Regions from separate parts of the Homo sapiens genome. Here region 2 is linked to region 1. A link means that fine-mapping ties the variant in region 1 to the expression of a gene that starts in the linked region. Tissue or cell type: naive CD4 T cells. Region 1 holds a variant in brackets; the other region holds the start of a gene. All regions are shown on one strand. Distances are from middle to middle.

What was found. PIP is the estimated chance that this variant, and not a neighbour inherited with it, causes the effect.
Region 2: it holds the start of TMEM254-AS1, and the variant in region 1 is fine-mapped to the expression of TMEM254-AS1 in naive CD4 T cells (Schmiedel 2018, PIP 0.95).

Annotation. Positions count from the first base shown.
Region 1 is chr10:80,007,901-80,010,658 of GRCh38, forward strand. No RefSeq gene overlaps it. Among named protein-coding and RNA genes, the nearest start is that of SFTPD, 60 kb to the left of the region's middle. The variant CAA/C (reference allele first, on the strand shown) is at 1,541.
Region 2 is chr10:80,078,004-80,080,537 of GRCh38, forward strand. It overlaps TMEM254-AS1 (TMEM254 antisense RNA 1), which reads right to left and starts at 1,190. Exons shown (of 4, transcript NR_027432.1): 1 at 724-1,190. It overlaps TMEM254 (transmembrane protein 254), which reads left to right and starts at 662. Exons shown (of 4, transcript NM_025125.4): 1 at 662-783. The coding sequence starts at 697.

The DNA of each region.
Region 1 (2,758 bases):
ACATGGTGAAACTCCATCTCTACTAAAAATACAAAAATTAGCCAGGCGTGGTGGCGGGCACCTGTAATCCTAGCTACTTGGGAGGCTGAGGCATGAGAATTGCTTGAACCCGGGAGGTGGAGGTTGCAGTGAGCTGAGATGGCACTACTGAACTCCAGCCTGAGCGACAAGAGTGAAACTCCATCTCCAAAAAAAAAAAAAAATGTCTACTACATACCTGTAAGAAGTACAAAACTAGTATGTTTGTAGACATAAGCTATGAACTAGATCTATGTTGTGCACCTAATGTCATTCCAACACCTTCAAGTGCAAATGAAGAAGATGGAAAATTACTGAAAACTTGTATAATGGGGACATAATGCAATTTGATAAAGTAACACAAGGAAAGGATAATAATTTTTTCAAATATATTTTTATTGTACAAAACTAAAGCCACATACACTTTGTTACGTTATGATGTATTTTCACGTTATTACATCAAAAGAAGGTAGAAGACTGAGAAGAGGGATGATTATTGAAGAGATTTTAAGGTTATATATAATTCATTTGTAATAAAATAGGCTATTTTATGGGTATGTATGGAAATAACTACCTCAGCATAAGATTGTATACGAAAAATCCACAGCTAGGCCAGGCGCAGTGGCTCATATCTCTAATCCCGAAACTTCGGGAGACTGAGGTGGGTGGACCATGAGGTCAGGAGTTTGAGACCAGCCTGGCCAACATAGTGAAACCCTGTCTCTACTGAAAATACAAAAAAATTAGACAGGCATGGTGGTGCGTGCCTGTAGTCCCAACTACTAAGGAGGCTGAGGCAGGAGAATCACTTGAACCTGGGAGGCAGAGGTTAGGTGAGCCCAGATCGCACCACTGCACTCCATCCTGGGCAACAGAGCAAGACTCTGTCTCAAAAAAAAAAAAAAAAAAATACACAGCTAACATCATACTCAACAGTGAAAAACTAAAAGCTTTTCCTCTCAGGTAAGGAAAAGCGAGGATGTCCACTCTTGCCACTTCTATTCCAAGATAGACTGGAAGCCCGAGCCAGAGCAATTAGACAAGAAAAAGAAAAAAGGCATCCAAATTGGAAAGGAAGAAGTAAAATTATCTGTTTATGGATGATGTGGTCTCATAAATAGGAAAACCTAAACAAAGCTATTAGAAATAATGAACAAATTCATCAAAGTTACAGGATTTTAAAAAAAATCAGCATACAAAGATCAAATGTGTTTCTATACATTAACAATTAACAATCTGAGTAGCCAGGTGCAGTGGCTCATGTCTGTAATTCCAGCACTTTGGGAGGCTGAGGCGGCGGATCATGAGGTCAGGAGTTTGAGACCAGCCTGACCAACATGGTGAAACCCCGTCTCTACTAAAAATACAAAAATTAGCCACGCATGGTGGTGCATACCTGTAATGCCAGCTACTCAGGAGGCTGAGGCAGGAAAATTGCTTAAACCTGGGAGGCAGAGGTTGTGGTGAGCCAAGATGGTGCCATTGTACTCCAGCCTGAGCAAGACAGAGTGAGACTCTGTCA[CAA/C]AAAAAAAAAAAAAAAAAAAAAAGCCAGGCACAGTGGCTCACGCCTGTAATCCCAGCACTTTGGGAGGCTGAGGCAGGTGGATCATGAGGTCAGGAGATCAAGACCATCCTGGCTAACAGGGTGAAACCCTGTCTCTACTAAAAGTACGAAAAATTATCTGGGCGTGGTGGTGTGTGCCTGTAGTCCCAGCTGCTCGGGAGGCTGAGGCAGGAGAATGGCGTGAACCCAAGAGGCAGAGCTTGCAGTGAGCCGAGATCATGCCACTGCACTCCAGCATGGGCGGCAAAGCGAGACTCTGTCTCAAAAAAAAAAAAAAAATCTGAAAAAGAAGAAAACGATCCCATTATGAAAGCATCACACAGCTGGGCTTACCTATATATCGAAAAAAAAAGCACTAAAAGAAATAAAATATTTAAGAATAAACTTAACCAAGGAGGCAAAAGGCTTGTATACTCAAAATTTCATAACGTTGAGCCAAATTTAACAAAACACAAATAAATGAAAGCAATCTTGTGTTCCTGAATTTCAAGATTTAATATTGCTAAGATTCTCATACTATTTAAAACCTATAGATTAAATGCAATCCCTATCAAAATTTCAATAGCATTTTATAGAAATAGGAAAAACTACCTTAAAATTCCTATGGAATCTGGGCCCAGTGCAGTGGCTCACACCTGTAATCCCAGCACTTTGGGAGGCCAAGGCAGGTGGATCTCTTGAGGTCAGGAGTTCGAGACCAGCCTAGCCAACATGGTGAAACCCCACCTCTACTAAAAATACAAAAATTAGCTGGGTGTGGTGGCGCATGCCTGTAATCCCAGCTACTTGGGAGGCTAAGGCAGGGGAATCACTTGAACCTGGGAGGCTGAGGTTGCAGTGAACCAGGATGGTGCCAGTGCACTCCAGCCTGGGCAATTGTGAGTTGAGTGAGACTATCTCAATAAAACAAAAACAAAATTCCTATGGAATCTCAGAGAAAAGCAAAATAGCCAAAACAATCTTGAAACAGAAGAACAAATTTGGAGATCTCACAATTTCTGATTTCAAAACTAATTATAAATTGATAGTAACCAACAGAGTATGGTACTGGCATAAAGGCAAACATATAGACCAATAAAACAAAATAAAGAGATCAGAAATAAACTCAGGAAAATGTAGTCGAATGGTCTTCAACAAGAGGACCAAGATCATACAATGCAGAAAGGACAGTGTCTT
Region 2 (2,534 bases), 70 kb after region 1:
GTAAAACACCATCTTTTTTTTTTTTTTTTGAGACAGGGTCTTGCTGTGTTGCCCAGGCTGGAGTGCAGTGGCGTGATCTGGGCCCACTGCAACCTGCACCTCTCAGGTTCAAGAGAGTCTTGTCTCAGCCTCTGGAGTTGCTGGGACTACAGGCAGGCACCACCGCGCCCAGCAAATTTTTTGTATTTTTAGTACAGACGGGGTTTCACCATGTTGACCACGCTGGTCTCAAACTCCTGACCTCAAGTGATCTGCCCGACTCGGCCTCCCAAATTGCTGGAATTTATTCCAACACCTCATTCATTCATTCATTCATTCGAGACAGAGTCTAGCTATGTTACCCGGGCTGGTCTCAAACTCCTGGGCTCAAGGGATCTTTCTACCTCAGCCTCCCAACGTGCTGAGATTACAGGGACACGCCACCGCGCCAGCCCGAACATCTTTATCTTAAACCCAGAAAAGTGACAGGAGTGTCTCCCCTACAAGATGATGACCAGCCCTCCAGACCTGAGCCCAGGTGTGATTCCAAGGCCCCTGTACTGGGGCCAGACAGGGAGACTCGCTCTCAGGGACTTCCCAACCAGCACCATCTTCTCCCTGCGGGGATGGCGAGGGAGCGCGGGCCGGCCCCGGCCCTGCCTCCGCGCTCGCGCTCGACGGTGTCCTGAAGCGCGCTCCCGGGGAGGTGTTGCAGCCATGGCTACGGCAGCCGGCGCGACCTACTTTCAGCGAGGCAGTCTGTTCTGGTTCACAGTCATCACCCTCAGCTTTGGCTACTACACAGTAAGGACAGCCGCTGGAGCGCTACGGTCTGACGAACGAGCGAGCGCTCGGTTCACCCCAGGACCTGGGCTCACAGGCCGCGGGCCGGGGGAAGTCGTGCAAGCACAATCCCGACTCCCGCGCGCTAGGAGCGGAGGGGAGGGGACCAGACTCCGCAATGAGAGCAAGCATACTGGTCCGCCAGGGTCTTGGGCGGGCGCCCAGGGCCCTGAGAAACCGGCTAGCCAGGCTTTTCTTATATGGGGGCGGGGACGGCTGGGGAGCTCCCAGCCAACTCTGTGTCTGGGTTTTTCAAGAGGATGGTGAAGTCGGAGGCCAGCAATGCGGCTACCGCCTATTTCCGTCCAGCAAGACCCTTGCCCTCTCTGGTCACAGTCCTGGGGCTGGGCTACTTCGCGGTGAGGCGTGGGGTGGGGCGGGGCGGGCCTCTGTTTTGGCCCGCCGGGCCCTCGTAGGGCGAGGGGAGCTCTGGGAACGGGGCCTGTGCGCACGCGCATCTGACGGTTGTCTCGGTTACTCATGTAAGCGGAAATTCGGTGGGCTCTTAGGATAGTTTCTGCTTTCTAGTGTTCCTGTCTTTGGGTCCTCACCTCTGCATGGTTACTAACGGGTTATCCGAGCCTAAGCCTCTCACGAAGCGGAAAGTCAAGTTAACAGACTGCCATAGGCCTGCCAAGTCAGAATAGGGCTTCCGAAGCAGAATGTTTGAGCCAATAGGAATTGTTTGGAAAACGGGGATAAATCTAAAGGATGGGTAGGATTTAAGTGGTAAGGGAGGATAAAGAGGCTATAACTGTTCTGACATAGGTGTGGAAGCAAGAAGAAAGCTGTACCTAGAAAAAGAGCGACGTTTGTTTGGCTGAGAAATAATCTGTTTAAAGGATAACGAGAAAGATGCGTGGAAAAGTAGGTTGGGGGCTAAGGTGGTAGTTTTGTGTTTTTTTGAGACGGAGTCTCGCTCTGTCACCCAGGCTGGAGTGCAGTGGGGCGATCTCGGCTCACTGCAACCTCTGCTTCCCAGGTTCAAGCGATTCTCATGTCTTTACCTGTAGCTGGGATTACACTATGCCCAGCTATTTTTTTGTGTTTTTAGTAGACATGGGTATTGGTGAGGCTGGCCTCGAACTCCTAACGTCAAGTGATAAGGTGGTAAAATTTTGAAGGAAGGCGAAGCTATTTGGGTATACCAATAGATCCTGGAGATTGGAGATTTGTCTTGTCCACAGTGTTGTTTGTTGGTGTCAAATCTGACAACCTATGTCCTGATTTCCCCATATGTACAATGGAGGTGTTGAACTGAAAATTTTCAAAGGTGCATTTCTGTTCTACGATTTAGTGTCTGTGACTAGTTAGAATATAGTTGGAGGAAAGCTTTGGGGACTTCAAATTGGGATCTTGTGGAGCTGGCAGATGCTCCCCTTTCCCTTTGGTTTGGGAGGATGCAGTGATATTTGTGCATTATTTAACTTTCAGATGTGAAACAACATCGTGAGAGAGGTAGTACTGCTCTTGACAAAGATTTGAATGGGACAATACATTTTGAAACTGTTGAGTTATTCTCAGAAAAGTCTTAGCTGACAGAAGTTACAATACAGAGGCTGAAAGTTAAGATTACGAAAAATTTATGTGATTAAGCAGTTGCTATTAAAATGTCACAACCTTATCTCACTTATTTTCCATCTCTATGCAGTGGATCATTCTCAGTTTTAGCCGTACAAAAAGGGAAAGCCGAGAAAGGAATTCTAAATTAA